Linked DNA regions of Homo sapiens: all the other regions are reported to be linked to region 4. Evidence: microRNA targets listed by miRTarBase, many of them from high-throughput screens and not tested one by one. Region 4 holds a microRNA gene; each other region holds the end of a gene's coding sequence.
Evidence for each region. Region 4 holds the annotated microRNA hsa-miR-6088 (AGAGAUGAAGCGGGGGGGCG, at 2,702-2,721, shown strand). A microRNA usually pairs through its seed, bases 2 to 8, with sites in the 3' UTR of a target mRNA and lowers its output. Matches are read on the target gene's strand: a 7mer-m8 pairs with bases 2 to 8, a 7mer-A1 pairs with bases 2 to 7 and ends in A, and an 8mer does both.

Region 1 (4,166 bases), not on the chromosome of region 4:
TGGGCCACAGTGGTGGCCTTGTCATGAGACAGAGGGACAACCATGTTCTGACTGAACTTTTTAAAAAACAAATCCTATGTATTACCTACTCAAAACAAAATGTTTTTGATGTGTGGCTTTTTTTAATTAAAAAACGTTTACTAAGTGCTGTGTGATATCCTTGTTTGGATCCTGGGGCAGAAGCAGGACATGTAGAAAAACTGATGCTATCTGAAAAAAGTCTGGAGTTAATAGTGATGTGGCAATGTTGAACTCTTCATTTTGACAAATGTCCCATGGTAATATGTCAGCACTGGGGGAAACTGGGTGGGAGGTACACAGGAGCTCTATCATCTTTGCAGCTTTTCTATAAATCTAAAATTATTCGAGTATAAAAAGTTTATTAAACTTTTTTTTTTTTTTTTTTACTTCAGTGAAACCTGTCAAATTGCATCTGCAAAATTGTTGTGTCTGAGAAAGTTAAAGCTCACTCCCTTCCCTTTTCTCATCTTGGTTTAGGTCGAAGAATTCCATCCACTGACGCCAACCTGCCATCTGGCGGTAAGGGCTTCAAACTCCGAAGACAGCCTTCAGAGCCAAAGCGGAGCTGCTGCTGACCGAACCTCAGCCTCTCAGACTTGATGATGAAGTAGGTGGTCCTGAAAGTTAACAGGAGGGCTGGGGTCCCTGCCACCAGTTTTCACCTAGCCAGTCTTGAGTCTTCTCCGTGCAAAAAGGATTCACAGAAATGGACCAGTTCTGTTCTCCAAAGACTGCAGCAATGATATTTCAGTCTGTGAACTTCTATTATGTAAAGAATCTCTAGTGTACAAAGGGACTACATCGTTGGCTTTTGACCTTGCTGAAAAGGAACATATAATTGTATGGATGGTAGGATTAAGTTGTTGAGTAGTTTTGTAATCAAGATTTTATGTAACATTTGTAAAGGGAAAATTAGCACTTTTGTGGTTCTTAAGGGAAAAGAAACAGACCTTGTGGAGATTATAATTTCCTTGGTTTCTGTTACCACTGTTAGAGGGAGTTGTATCATTTAACATATAGTAGGATAGTTTAAGTGTAGGGAGGACAATTATTGTCTGAAGCTAAAATGGGTTATTTATAGGACTGATGGAAATGATTTCATCTCTGCCATCTCTAAAGCACTTTTCATTGAACATGTTAGCCTAGGATACGTACAGTAAATTAACAATGATAGCAGCAGATGCCTAGCTCATCCTGGGTTTGCTTCTGACCTTGTCATGTGTGTGCCACCAAACACGTTATTGGCACCTTTTTAAATAAGCTCTCATGATCAAGATGGTGATGGTAGAGAAGCTGCCCGGAATAAACTGAATTTCATATGTTCTAAAATGACTAGCAATGGTTTAAAAAGGAAGAAGAGTGGAAGTGAAGAAGGTGGTATAAATGCTGTCAATTTTTTTTTAACCCAAGTATTTTGGTGGGGAAAAGCAAGTATCTATTGCTTAGCATATGTAAAGTTGTAGTCTATATTTATGGGGCCATTGCTTAAAGATTATAAATTATGTAAATACATTAATAAATTCTAAGTTTCATTTGACATTCCATTGAATCTCGCACCCAGTCTTGCGTATGCCTGCCCAGTTTTCAGCCTCTTAACGGGAGACTCAAGCACATTGGTATTGTATAAAGGTATAGAGCACTTAGCTTACAATCTTTAAAGGTTTCTCTGCCTTCCCTTCTACCCACCCGCCTCCCACCAGATCCCATCTGGAAATCATAATAAAGACATATGCCACTTTGACAAACCTGACTAGTCCTTACTAGCCTGAGGGTAAAAGATTAAGCTCCAACCTCAAGTCATTTACCTGGTCTTGGTAATAAGTTTCTTTTAGCTTGTACAGCATCCTCAGACCAACTGAGGAGCTTTCCTTGTTAACAATTTAGCTTATCTTTCTGTTTCCTTTATTTTTCCCCTGCCTCTGTTAGTGGTTAACACTCTTTTCCCTCAGGGAGCCTAATGAGGTTTTTAATATCATCTAAAAATAAAGCATTGAAGTGAAGTTGGTGAAAATTTGTTCCTGGTCTAATTTGGCACCCTTCCAACCTGAGTATTGTAGGGGAAGGAAATTTACAAGATTTAATAGGAAATGAAACAGCTTGAATTTCAAACTAAATTGTATTTTCAGAGCTATCCTGAAACTGAACAGCTGAAACTTTAAAAAATAATTGGTATTATTTTGTGCCCCCCACTTAATATGGATAGATTTTAATGGGAAAATTATAATTCAGATTAAATAAAAAACAATTCCCTTTTCCCTGTTGTATATCTTAAGCATTTGGAATTTTTTTTATCTTCTGAAATCATATAAAAAGAATGTCATTAGTAAAAATTCTAACTTCGTTTTGTTTAAAAGACATGTGGATGCTCCATGCCCCTAGGATTTTGCTTCCTCCCCGGTGCTAAATTAGCAAGCTCCTAGAGAAGCCATGTGATTCCCAGAGCCAGGCGCTTTACACCTAAAGTAGTTTGACTTTCTTCTGTATACATCCAGATGGATCCCAGGCATCCGGGCACCACCCTGGTGTGTCCCTAGAATTCCCACTGCTGGGCCTCTATCTCCATGACAACAAAATAAAAACAGAGGTTGCTTGACTCATTACCAAAGAGGCAAAGCATGTGCGACCCTTTCTGTCTTATTTTACCAAAAGATGGTGCAAATCTATGACCTTCACATTTTTTCCACCACACCCACCAGTAGCTGTTGGTGATTGCATGGTGTCTCGGTGCATGGGGAAAGGCAAGGTCTTCTGAGCTCATCTTAACTGGTGAGGCATCTGGATGTGTCTGATCTTACTGTGATGTTTTACTGTACCGAGCCCAATGTGGGTCCATCTCATCAGCCCTTTGCTGATTTCATGATTTCTCACCCTCCCTCCCATATGTAGGGTGTGATTCTGTTTTATTATAGCCACATGTTTTATTAACAGAATGAGTGATATGAAGCTTGTACTTATGCATTTCTCGGGCCTCTTCCCTCATTTTCATCAGTCTGTCTAAGAACTTGACTCGGCACTGTTTCTCGTGTAATATCCTTCTAATGCTTAGCAACAACAACAAAAAATTGCTCTCTCAGATCCATAATCCATACTCAGTGAAAGCAGGGAAAAAATATTTTCACTTATTTTATTTGCTTCTAAAATGCAAAGATGAATACTAAAGTCAGAAGCAGTGTTTCATTTTGAACACATTTTGGATTATTAAGCTGACTAAGCAATGATCTAATACACATTTCATATTTTCTTTATAATAATTTCTTATGGAGAAGAGGCTATATTTCAAAGGAATTGAGACATACTCCCATCTATAAACATGTTTGGTTTTCTTACGATACAGGGCCATTTTTTTAAAACTCTCAGGACTGAACAGAAGAGAAAAATTATTAATTAGCTGCTACTGTATGTTGATTCTTTTCGGAGAAATTGAAATAAGCTCTTTGCAGGCGTCCAATCCTAGAAACCAATGGTCTCCAGAACTCTCACACAAGTGTTTTTCTGATTCTATGATAACTAATTAACCATCATCTGGTGATTAAAAGAACATAAAGTAAGATTATGATTAAGTGTCCATCACCTGCCTGTCAGCCGTGGTCAGAATAAGTTTTACACGAAGCAGGTGAAAGATTTAGTTCTTTTCAAAGTAACTTATTTTCTTGTGACCCGTTTATGATGTTGTTTGAAGTCCCTGTTTCCCATTGTGTACGCACTTTCTGGATGTCTGGAAGGATCGGGACTTTTGTGTGAGAGGCTTGAGCGCCTCCTCTATGTGGGCTGGTGTCCTTCTTGAAGTTGTCAATTCCTCTTATTCTTAAATATCTAAAGGGAAAGGAAACCAACTTTAATTTCAGAACTTCTCTTTACGTCTTGTATGTATTTCTTTTCTGTTCTCAAGGAGGAAAATTGGTCTAGGAAGCCTTCTAAATTAAACTCTGGGAAATATAGTAATGAAAATATCCTTTAGCTAACTTTCCTGTAACTGTCAAACCAAAATGTCAGTATTTTTAGGGCATTGTGTTAAAATAAGCAGTTTAGATTCCGACGACACTGCACTAATTGGCATGTCAGCCTCCAGCTCAGAAAGGCATTTGCTCATGGTTACAGGCATCTTTTAGATTCTAAGAGTGAGTTACAGAATTCTTTTTGGTACT
Region 2 (4,136 bases), not on the chromosome of region 4:
CAATAAAAAATGAAAAAAATACAAATTATTTGTACAGTCTTATCTCAATTATGTACATATACATGTAGATTCAAAGAAAACTCATTGAAAGGAAATACACTAATTCACAAAGGTTATCTCTAAGTAGTAAGATTATGGGTGATTTTTTTTCTTCTTGAGCTGTTATGTGTTATTTGTGTATTTCCTATAATGAAAATTCTGAGATCAAAACAATGATTTTCTTTGTGCAATTGGAAAGTCAAAATAGAAACAGCAAAACTAAAGTTATCTTTGATTCCTTAATGTTGCACAAAGGAGGGGCTTTCAGTTGAAAAAAAAAGACATGTTCTTTCCTTAAAAGAATCCGCTGGCCACGGGTGCAGGCTGTGCCACCAGCACTGGATGGTCCTGGCACCCCAGCCAGTTGTGTAGCTGGCCCCGCTGTCCAAGCACAAGCCACATGCAAGGGCTGAGAGAAAGCTTCCCTGCCCCCTCCCTCCATCACATCCCCCATGATACTAATGTGGGCTCCCTTACCTCCGCAGTACGGAGTGGACGTCACGGCCCGAGATGCCCACGGGAACACAGCTCTGGCCTACGCCCGGCAGGCCTCCAGCCAGGAGTGCATCGACGTGCTGCTGCAGTACGGCTGCCCCGACGAGCGCTTCGTGCTCATGGCCACCCCTAACCTGTCCAGGAGAAACAATAACCGGAACAACAGCAGTGGGAGGGTGCCCACCATCATCTGAGGAACAGCCGTGCCCGCCTGCTCGCCGCACCTGGGACGCGGCAGCCTCGCCGCATTCTCGCTCAGAAGTCGCAGCACGTGAGTCCCGTCGCATCCCCTCCCTCTTCCTGGTGGCCACCTCCCTCCCGCCCACCCACTCTCACCCCAAACAAAATCACAAAACCTGGACATCCCTCAAGGGGCGAAGAGGCGGCCGGGAGACTGCAGAAGTGGCTCCTTTTCATAAACTCCCCTAAACCACACACAGGAGAGAGCGACGGGCCTCGGCCCTTTGATGATAGCACATGGCGCAGGACCCTTGTCCTGGTGGCACAAGGGATGGGGACGCGAGGGGGAGGGGAGGCGAGGAACAAGGAGAAGGGGCAACTTTCCTTAACTGGCAGTTGAGCACATAGTACATTTCCCCTCTACCAAACGGAACACTTGGATTCCATCTCTTCTCTGAGGAGCTCGACGGCATAAATCAGAAGCAAGCACAGAGTTTGTCAGGTTTGAAGCCCCTATGATGGTGTGTGTCAAATCAGTTGTAGCTAATCTGTCCAGGGAGAATACTGGCTTCATTACACTTGTACAGCCGAGTTCTTCCCGCATTACTGCTGTTTAATAGAACGTGATTAGTCATCGCCGAGAAGAAAGCATATTAGCCGAGGAGGTAGTCACGCGGCACGCGCCGGTGATTGCCACGATGTGATTGCAATACTCTTAGAAGCACCATATTATCCCAGACATGTTCTTTCAAGCCCTTGGAGCCCTCTCTAAATTCACTGTCATCATTTAGTATCTGTTTAATTTTTCAGTCCAAAGAGAGGAAATCAGTCGCTGAGTATTATTTGACTCCGGTCTCCTTGGTGCAAAAACAAAATGGGAAAAATAAATAAGAATAACTCAGAAACTCAAAAGGAAACCACAAATTCAGCTAATAATAGCATTTCGAGTATATTTCGTAAACTAAGGAAATACACAAAAGGCTGTTTTTTCCGACTGTAAGAGATATTTGATGTCCTTTTGCCGAGGTGGATGTGTTAGTCTCAGGCCCTCCTGGACCACGTTGCCCAAGTCACACAGGCTTCTGTGTTATGTATTTAGATAAGATGTGTGAAAATATATTTGAATAAAAGAAGTTCATAAATATGCATTGATTTTTGTACAGACAAATGGCACCTCTCTTAATTTATAAATTGAACTGGATGTGAACTAATAATGTGCAACTAGTTGAGATAAGAGGGTTACAGATCATTGTACATGGAAAATATTCCCAGCAGTAAACACTTCCATTAATGTGATCTACGGCTTTTGAAAAGGAGCATCTCAGAATAAGATGGTGGTACAATTTGCTTATTAAAATTGAGAAAGAAAAAAAAAGACACACTGGAGTATATTAGAAAGGAAAAAGAAGGAATGTGGTCTCTCATGATTGAAAGCATGATTTAGATCGGATACGGCTTTTGCTAACCAAGGACCAAGGGACTCTGGCAAGATGGGGTGGTTTTCCGAATGCCAGACCGAGGTGCCTTACGAAGGCAGCTGCCAATGGTTCTGTGGCACAGACTGGCTCCTGAGAACCCAGACGACCTTGACCTGGCAGCCCGGCCCTCCACGCTAGTACCTCGCCTGATTTTCCATCGTTGCGGTATCCAGCCGCTTCAGACGTCCGCCGCCTTCAGTGGTGGTAGTCAAATGTAGTCAACCAAACCACAGCATCCCTTAGGTTAAAAGCAAACGGGGCAGCTTTGCCTAGAGCTCATTGACAGTGTGATGGGGGGAGAAGGGTTGTCACAATGGAAGATGAGGACACTAGACTCATGTAGCACAGAAACATGAAGCCACACGCACCGGCAGCCTCCGGGGTGTTCCTCGCTCTCTCGTATGTTAAACCTTATATTTTATAAGAGTTTTTCCTCTTATTTCACTTTTTAAAAAAAATTAAAGTAGGTGGGGAAAAAAATAAAGCTTTACACAGAATTTATATGTGGGTAAGTGTTTCATGGAAATTTCTAATCTTAACGAAGCTAAGTGGAGCTCACTCGTATCCAAAAGTATAACAGGTGCAGAAGCCACAAGTCTGAGAACCTTGACGACAGTTCCATCGTCCTGCCATTTGATTTTTCAGTCTGCGTTTCATCACTGTGTAGCTATTGTAAATGTGAATAGAAAAAAACAGGTCATTGCCTATTTTTGAAGAACGCGTTGGTGTTCGAGTCCACTAGACACACTCGCTCCACACAGCCTTCACCGTAGACTCTGTAGTGGACACAGATATAGCATAAATGAAATTGTTAAATTATTTCATTGTAGTTAATTCCCACTATAGGAATGCTTTATCATAGTGAAGTTTCTTTTGAGAAGAAACGGAACTCCTTGAGGCTTCTCTTTGGGATGTATATGAGCGTGTACATATTATTCTATGTGTTTATAATATAATATTTTCCCAAATGACTTCTTGTTTCACTTTGCCTTCCACAACCTGAATGCCAGATTGGTTTTTTCCCTTCCTGGCCCCCAGCACAAGCTGCCATGACTCCCCCTCAGAAAACACAGCCCCTCCTCTACCATTCTCAGTGATGTCCATCTGCTCCACTCCGCAGCCACTTTCTAGGGCCCAAGTTTTGGTAGCAGAAGGAAAGGCAGTTTTTGAGGGTCTTTCGAAAAAAAGAAGACGGGGCAGCTTTGCCCAGAGCTCGTTGGCAGTCTGTTTGTATTTCAGTGTCTAACCAGAAGTCCTTTCTTTGCGGACCGCACTCTCGTTCCCACTTTCAAGCTAATTACCACCAAGGCTGGGAGAGGCAAGGACTGGGGGCGGAGCTAGGAATAACTCGTTTGAGAAGGGGGTGGAGTTTTCGTTGTTCATTTCCATGTTCAGTTCTGTGACGTGACGATGACAGATCACCACTGCAGGATCCCCCTCACCTTTCCTGTTCAGAATTAAAACTCTCCCTTGATGAGAAACAGCCAGCTGAGGGAGGCCCACGAGCGGCCTGTGTAACCCCATGGGTGATCTGGACACATCTGCACCCCCGCGTTCAGCTTCGCGGAGACTGAACTTGGCGGGGAGTGGAGGGGTGTGGTGCAGACCTGGCTGCAGCAGAAACACCCCGCAGGGACAGTACTCTGTGATTCTGACCTCAGGTGCTGGGACGGGCAGATGGTTTCCCCCGCCCAGCACCCCAGTCCTGGTCCCTGGTCCCTCTCTCTGTTTCATCCCAGGAAATGAGCAGCTCGAGGGTGAGCAAGTGACAAGTTCCTGAGTCACTGGCCCCAAAACCAGGTGCAGTGTCCTGTCTCCCAAGTGTGTGCACAATGTATATATGCACTGGAAAGGAGGGAGAAGGCAGCGGGTCACTCGCCAATCGCAGGGTTCTCAGACACAGGAGAGAGCGGGATCTTAATGAATTGCATTTCCTGCAGAGCC
Region 3 (4,166 bases), not on the chromosome of region 4:
GTAATTAAGTATATATTTAGCCTACAGATTAATATTCTCCCAGCTGTGCCTTAATCCTAAAACCTATCATAGTAACCAAAAAAGATAGTACTGCATGATTAAGTGTATGTTCTGATCGTATTTTGTGTTTTTGAAATACCCTCTTGTGCATGAAAGAGACAGTGATATATAATAAAGTAGGATTCAGGCTAGCTAAGCTTTAGCCCTCACTGTGCCATAAAATTGTATGAAATTAAACTATTGATTTACTGCTCTGTGCTTATTTTTCTTATCTGTAAAATTAGGAGCTTAGACCAATTGTTCGTAAGACCACCTCATGATTCTAAAATGTATGAATCAATGTTAGTTGAACACTGATACTCTGTCAGTAGCTACATAAAAGGTGTGGATTTTTTTAAACAAAAAGGTGCTTGATGTTCATGTGTGAAGTGATTAGACTTGAGCAATATGGAAAAGCTGAGGTTTTGTACTACCTGAATGGCACTACAGAAATTCAGATTTACATAATCTTCTTCTTTTTCTTCTGCAGTTTCTGTTTCTATTCTTGTTCTTCTCTCTTGCCTTTATTCTATGGCCTTGATGTCAAGGTGCCTCTTAAAGGTAAGATTCCATTTAATTCTCAAAATGTGGTTCTAAGAGGTATTTGATAAAAAGGATGTTACCTATAGTTACTATGCCTTTCTTTAGTTTTTTGTTTTGTTTTGTTTTGTTTTGTTTTGTTTTGTTTTGTTTTGTTTTGAGACAGAGTCTTGTTCTGTCACCCAGGCTGGAATACAGTGGCACAATCAGATCATTCACTGGCAGCCTCAATCTCCCAGGCTCAAAGCGATCCTCCAACCTCAGCCTCCTGAGTAGCTGGGACTACAGGCATGTGTCACCATGCTCAGCTAATTTTTTTTTATTATTATTTTTAGTAGAGACAAGGTCTCACTTTGTTGCCCAGGGTAGTCTTGAACTTCAGAGCTCAAGCAATCCTCCTGCCTTAGCCTCCCAAAGTGTTGACCAAGCCATCAGGCCTGGTCTATATATTTTAACTATGCTATATTTTTAAAATACAAACACACTTGCTTTGGTTAGCATAAATGCCATAAATTGAGAAATAGATCCAGTCTATTTGGGTGATTATTAGAAAAGTGAAGAAACCAAATATTCTGGGAATCAAGAATCTGTTCCAGTTAACTGTATTACTTTGGGAAGTCACAATGTCTGTGGTTGTTAGCATTCTCATCATAGTCTCCCATTATGCAGAAAGTTGCATCTGTATCTGCAAAGTGAATAAATAATGACGTTATCTTTAGTGTTGCGTTCAGCTTGAAAATTCTGATTCTGCTAATCTAACAAGCTAGTAATGACTGCTGTTTTTTTCACCCCTTTTCCCCAGTAGAGACTAGGGAGTTCATTAAAACTCAAGAAAGCAGGCTAAGTGGATCTTGTTTTCAAATAAGTTACTTTTCAATGTCAATATAGAAAACAAAAAGGAGAGTCTTATAATTACTATTATTAAGTCCATGTCTCATGAATACATGCATAAATAATCTTAGTGATTCCCAGTGCTTAAAAATATAGATTTTTAAGCCCCACCTCAGACTTGCTGAGTCAGATCACTGGAGATAGAGGGAGATAGAGAGAGGGTGGGAGAGATGAGAGCAAGGACTGGTCTGTATTTAACAAGCACGCTATGTGATTCTGATGGCCGGCCAAATAGGGAAACCACAAATCTCAATACCACTGTTCAAAAAGAAGAAGGGCCAGCGGCTATTCTAAATCCATTTATCATGGTTCATGTCAACTCTGATTATCCTATTAAATTATATTAGCCTGAGATCTTTCCTGGACCTCAGGTGATTTAACATTTTCTACAGCAAGTTGGAAAACAGAAGAGAGGCACTTTCTCCCTCCATAGGTATGAGATCTGTTACCTGGATATGGAACAGACAAGTAAAAGTGCTTTAGAATAACCTGATACAAGCAAAGAGTTAAGTAGATATGCTCAGAAAATATATGAACTCATAACTCACTCTCTGGCTATATTCTTTCTTCCAAAATATTTTCTTTTCAGATTGACCACTATCCTTTGTCTGTCAAGAAAGATGACAGCCTTGTAGGATGGAAAGAAGAGGACTAAGTCTCTTAAATTGAATGGGAATATCCAAATTGAAGTGGAGGGAGATTCACTAGTAAAGGATCAAAATGACCAGAGTATCAGGAAACAAACAGCCTCCCCCCACCAAAAAAAAAAAAAAAAAAAAAAAACAGTAAATAAATTTTAAAAGTAGGGAAAATAAATTTCAGTAAGAGACAAGTAATACATGGTGGTTTACAGAAGAAATATCAAACCTTGTAAGTACTAGGTAGAAAATGGATAGGCTTCAGCATTAACATCAATGCTGGCCAAAGCTGATTATGTCCTGGGAGCTGTTCTAAGTAATAGATACATTTAATCCTCATGAAATCCCCTGTGGGATAGGTATTGCTTTTATCCCTAATTTGTAGTTGGAGAAACTACAGCATGTGACTTTCCCAAGACCATCCAGCTACCAATTTGTACCCAGGCAGCCTCAGCCCAGAATCCACTTCTAACCACCAAACTGCCTCACAAGTAAAAAAGGGCCTTTCTCCCATGTTTCAAGCAACATTGGCGTTCATATGTATCCTCATCAGAAGCGTCATCTATTTGTATAGTACTACTTAGCTACTGGCTTTTGAAATTACAGTGTGCTCGTCTCTGTACCTTTTCCCATTTTGTGTAACTCCTTGAGGGATGTACAAGATTTGATGTTTTTCCTCCAAAGTAGCACATAAATGACACTTAGTAATTGTCTGTTAAGTGAATGACTATAATGATAATTAATAATATAGCCGATGAATGTGACAGTGAATCTGGGCAATAAATATATTGCATATGCAGTAAAATGGCTGAGAGGTTAGAGTGCACAGCTTACAAGTCAGATATAATTTAAAGCTTGAGTCCTGCCATTTACTAGTTGTGTGATGATAGGCAGTTTATTTAATCCACCCAAGATTAGGTTTCCTATTCCACAAAATGGTTATAATCATGTTACCTACAGCAGGGTGTTGTGTTGAGAGAATGAGACGAGGTTATGCATGTCAAAGGCATAACAGTGCCTGGAAAATCATTAATCAGTAACTCTTAGCTATTATTAGATTTAAAAATTAGCTACCACATTTACTGAATTCAAAATTACACTAAATTATACTAGTATTCTAGTATACAAAATTATACTAAATTCAAAATTATAACCTCTAGTACTGCCAAGTAGTTTTCAGCCTAAACCCAAACAAATAGTTGCTTTTTCATCTCCTCTTCTCAGGGAATAATCTGGCTTTAAATAATATTAGGGAATAAAACATCACTGAAAACTGATCAATGCTACTTATGTCTCCAAAGTTGGCAAGATAGAAATAGGAAGAAGTAAGGGAAAAAGTGCTTCTTTATTGGTAGGTAGTGAAAGCTTACTGCAAATTACGATAAATTTTTTTCCATACTAAATTAATGATTTGTATTGTGTTCATAAACCCAAGACTAGCTTAAATGACAAAGTCCTCCTTAAAATGGAGAGACTCCTACTTTTTTTCTTTTAGTAATTGCCTAAGTCATTATTGTCAGTAATGATATAGAAGCCATCGAACGCTCCCTAGAAGGCACCCTTACTGGACTCAGTGCTGGCATTGACTAAATAACTGCATGGATTATATCAGGACTTTTACTTTAAACAAGGGGACTCCAAGTAGTTCCAGAAGATATTATCTGGCTATGCATTCTGGTTTTCCAAACGAATGGCATATCAATGTATTAGTCAGGTTCTCCAGAGAGGTAACCAATAGCATAGATAGATAGATAGATGATACATAGATAGATGATAGATAGATAGATAGATAGATAGATAGATAGATGAAAATGAGAGCGGCTTTATTAAGAGAATTCGCTCACCTGGTTATGGGGGTGGAGAAGTCCCATGGTAAGCCATCTGCACGCTGGAGAACCAGAGAAGCAACATGGCTCTGTTCAAATCAGAAACCCAAGAACCGCTGATGGCTCACGCCTGTAATCCCAGCACTTTGGGAGGCTGAGGCTGGCAGATCACAAGGTCAGGAGTTCAAAACCAGCCTGGCCAATATGGTGAAACCGCGTCTCTAATAAAAAT
Region 4 (4,166 bases):
TGAAACCCCGTCTCTACTAAAAATACACGCACACAAAAATTAGTCAGGCATGGTGGCATGCGCCTGTAGTCCCAGCTACTCGGGAGGAGGCTGAGGCAGGAGAATCACTTGAACCCGAGAGGCAGAGGTTGCAGTGAGCCGAGATTGTGCCACTGCACTCCAGCCTGGCCAACAGCAAGAATGTCTCACACACACACACACACAAAAAAAAAAAAAAAAAAAAAGAGGAAGAAGAAGAAGAGACCTGTCCATGTGCCCTGGCTCACACCTGTAATCCCAGCACTTTGGGAAGCTAAGGCTGGCAGATCGCTTGAGCCCAGGAGTTTGAGACCAGCCTGGGCAACATGGTGAAACACCGTGTCTCTCCAAAAAATACAAAAAAAAAAAAAATCGCATGGCTTGGTGGCATGTGCCTGTAGTCCCACGTACTCGGGAGGCTAAGGTGGGAGGATCACTTGAGCCCAAAAATGTCAAGGCTGCAGAGGGCCATGATCATGACAATGCACTCCAGCCTGGGCAACTGAGTAAAGCCCTATCTCAAAAAAAAGAAAAGAGAATCTATCTGGCAGTTTTCTCTCTTGCCTTCCAATCGTTGCATCTCATTTATTTTTCTTGTCTTACAGCATTTTTTTGTTTTTGCTTTTGTTTTCCGAGACTGAGTCTTGCTCTGTCACCCAGGCTGGAGTGCAGTGGTACGACCTCAGCTCACTGCAACCTTCGCCTCCCGGGTTCAAGCAATTCTCCTGCCTCAGCCTCCCGAGCAGCTGGGACTACAGGCGAACATTGCCACACCCGGCCTTTTTTAAAAATTTTTTTATTTTTATTTTTATTGTTTTTTTTGAGACAGAGTTTCGCTCTTGTTGCCCAGGCTGGAGTGCAATAGTGCGATCTTGGCTCACTGCAACCTCTGCCTCCTGGGTTCAAGCGATTCTGCTGTCTCAGCCTCCTGAGTAGCTGGGATTACAGGCATGCACCACCACGCCCGGCTAATTTTTTGTATTTTTTTTTTTAGTAGAGATGGGGTTTTTCCACGTTGGTCGGGCTGGTCTCAAACTCCTGACCTCAGGTGATCCACCTGCTTCAGCCTCCCAAAGTGCTGCAATTACAGGCATGAGCCATGGTGCCTGGCCAAATTTTTGTATTTTTAGTAGAGACGGGGTTTCCCCATGTTGGCCAGGCTGGTCTCAGACTCCTGACTTCATGATCCATCCACCTTGGCCTCCCAAAGTGCTGGGATTACAGGCATGAGCCACTGTGCCAGGCCCATTTTACAGCATTTCAAACACTTCCAGGACTATGCCGCACAGTAACATTGATTCTCACAGCAGCCCTCCACACTACAACCCTCTGAGATGACTTATCTCACCATGCCCATTTTACAGAGGGAGAAACTGAGGCACAGGGAAGGTAGACTCTTATCCAAGGCCACATAGCAGGTAAACAAACAAACTAGGACTCCAACCAAACCTTGTGCTCTGTCTCAGCCTTAAAAGAAAACTCAATAAACATTCTGGCCTTTTTGTTTTTGTTTTGAGACCTTTATTCTGTTACGCAGGTTGGAGTGCAGTGTGGTGATCACAGCTCACTGCAGCCTCAAACTCCTAGGCTCAAGCAAACCTCCTACCTCAGCCTCACAAGTAGCTGGGACTATAGGTGTGCACCGCCAGAGCTGGCTATTTTTGTGTAGAGATGGGGTCTCGCTATGTTGCCCAGGCTGCTGATCTCAAACTGCTGGCCTCAAGGGATCCTCCTGCCTTGGACTCCCAAAGTGTTGGGATTACAGGTGTGAGCCTCCATGTTCAGTCCACATTCTGTACTTTTTTTTTTAGATGGAGTCTCACTCTGTCACCCAGGGTGGAGAGCAGTGGCGCAATCTTGGCTCACTGCAACCTCTGCCTCCCGGATTCAAGCGATTCTCTCAAGTCTCAGCCTCCCAAGTAGCCGGGAGTACAGACATGTACCACCATGCCCGGCTAATATTTTTTGTATTTTTAGTAGAGACGGGGTTTCACCATGGTGGCCAGGTTGGTCTTGAACTCCTGACCTCAGTTGATCTGCCCACCTCATCCTCCCAAAGTGCTGAGATTACAGACATGAGCCACCGTGCCCAGCCTATTTTTTTTAAAACGGGAAAAATATCTGTAAATTGCCACAGTGACCCACGGAGCCTGGATGAAGAGCGGGAAGCCTGAGGTCTCCTTCAGTCTCCATCCTCTCTCTGAGCCTCAGTTTCCTTCCCTATGTGGAAGGGTTGGAAAAGATGTTCTCTAAAAGCCTCAGAAACTCTGCCGTTAGCGTGGAGGGGACAGAAGCTCAAACAGATTGCATTAGTTTCTTAACGGCTACTATAACAAATTATCCCCAATTCAGTGACTTAAAACAAGAGAAATTCGGCCGGGCGCCGTGGCTCACGCCTGTAATCCCAGCACTTTGGGAGGCCGAGGCGGGCGGATCACGAGGTCAAGAGATCGAGACTATCCTGGTCAACATGGTGAAACCCTGTCTCTACTAAAAATACAAAAAATTAGCCGGGCATGGTGGCGGGCGCCTGTAGACCCAGCTACTCGTGAGGCTGAGGCAGGAGAATGGCGTGAACCCAGGAGGCGGAGCTTGCAGTGAGCCGAGATCACGCCACTGCACTCCAGCCTGGGTGACAGTGAGACTCCGTCTCAGACAAACAAACAAACAAAAATAGTTTTGTAGAGATGAAGCGGGGGGGCGGGGTCTTGCTCTATTGCCTACGCTGATCTCAAACTCCTGGCCTTGACATTGCAATCTGCCCGCCTTGGCCTCCCAAAGGGCTGAGATTACGAGTGTGAGCCACCCTGGCCTAAACATTTAAAACGACATGTGTGACAGCCAGGCATGGTAGCCTGCACTTGTAATCCCAGCTCCTTGGAAAGCTGAGGTGGGAGGACCCCGTGAGACCAAGAGTTGGAGATCAACCTGGGCCATACAGTGAGACTCCATATATAGTGGATTCCAATATAGTGAGACTTTAAAATATAAAATAAGGGCCGGGCATAGTGGCTCACGCGTGTAATCCCAGCACTTTGGGAGGCCAAGGTGGGTGAATCACCTGAGGTCAGGAGTTCGAGACCAGCCTGACCAACATGGTGAAACCCCATCTCCACTAAAAATACAAAATTAGCCAGGCGTTGTGACACACGCCCGTAATCCCAGCTACTCAGGAGGCTGAGGGAGGAGAATCGCTTGAACCCAGGAGGCAGAGGTTGCAGTGAGCCTTGATCACGCCACTGCACTTCGGCCTGGGCGACAGGAGCAAGACTTCATCTCAAAAAAGAAAAAGAAAATATATATGTGTGTGTGTATATATATATATAATAAGTAAAAATAAAATCGTACATATGGATCTAGCAGACTCATATACCTCTGGTTATATTTCCAAAGGAATTGAAATCAGGATGTCGAAGGGTTATCTACACTCTCAAGTTCATTGCAGCACTGGTCACAATAGCCAAGATATGGAGTCAACCTAAGTGTCCATCAAGGGACATAATGGATAAAGCAAATGTTGCATATACACACGATGGAATACTATACAGCCTTGAAAAGGGAGGAAATTCTGCCATTCAAGACAACATGGATGGAACTGGAGGACATTATTCTAAGTGAAATAAACCAGACACAGAAAGACAAACACCACATGATCCCACTTTTATATGGAATCTTAAAAAGTCGAGCTCATAGAAACAGTATAAAGGTGGCTACTAGAGTCCAGGGAAGTGGGAGAGGGTTGGGAAAAGAGAAGATGTTGATCAAAGGGTGCAAAGTTTCAGCGAGACTGGAGAAATATATTTCAGTGATCTATTGCACAGCATGGTAACCACAGTTAATACTAATGTATTGTGTATTTCAAAGTTGCTAAAATAGAGTTTAAATTTTTTAAATTTGTAAATATTATTTTTTATTTTTTGTCACTACGTGTTCTCATCTGATTTTTTTTTTTTTTGAGACGGAGTCTCGCTCTGCTGCCCAGGCTGGAGTGCAGTGGCACAATCTCGGCTCACTGCAACCTCTGCCTCCTGGGTTCAAGTGATTCTCCTGCCTCCGCCTCCCGAGTAGCTGGGACTACAGGCGTGTGAGACCACGCCCAGCTAAATTTTTTTTGTATTTTTAGTAGAGATGGGATTTCACCGTGTCAG

Region 1: the mRNA of RAB22A is a reported target of hsa-miR-6088. Seed matches in the 3' UTR shown: 7mer-m8 at 1,120-1,126 and 7mer-A1 at 2,852-2,858.
Region 2: the mRNA of AGAP1 is a reported target of hsa-miR-6088. Seed matches in the 3' UTR shown: 7mer-A1 at 2,032-2,038.
Region 3: miRTarBase lists JAKMIP2 as a target of hsa-miR-6088. The part of its 3' UTR that is shown has no 7-base or 8-base seed match.

Annotation. Positions count from the first base shown.
Region 1 is chr20:58,359,108-58,363,273 of GRCh38, forward strand. It overlaps RAB22A (RAB22A, member RAS oncogene family), which reads left to right. Exons shown (of 7, transcript NM_020673.3): 7 at 499-4,166. The coding sequence ends at 596. Among named protein-coding and RNA genes, the nearest start is that of VAPB, 28 kb to the right of the region's middle.
Region 2 is chr2:236,123,395-236,127,530 of GRCh38, forward strand. It overlaps AGAP1 (ArfGAP with GTPase domain, ankyrin repeat and PH domain 1), which reads left to right. Exons shown (of 18, transcript NM_001037131.3): 18 at 525-4,136. The coding sequence ends at 728. Among named protein-coding and RNA genes, the nearest start is that of GBX2-AS1, 42 kb to the right of the region's middle. RefSeq lists an enhancer at 3,324-3,834.
Region 3 is chr5:147,598,175-147,602,340 of GRCh38, reverse strand. JAKMIP2 (janus kinase and microtubule interacting protein 2) reads left to right here. Exons shown (of 22, transcript NM_001270941.2): 21 at 530-600. The coding sequence ends at 580. The region is part of intron 3 of JAKMIP2-AS1 (JAKMIP2 antisense RNA 1); the gene reads right to left. Among named protein-coding and RNA genes, the nearest start is that of JAKMIP2-AS1, 40 kb to the right of the region's middle.
Region 4 is chr19:45,433,953-45,438,118 of GRCh38, forward strand. It overlaps MIR6088 (microRNA 6088), which reads left to right and starts at 2,702; the gene lies at 2,702-2,752. It also overlaps a transcript of ERCC1 not described here.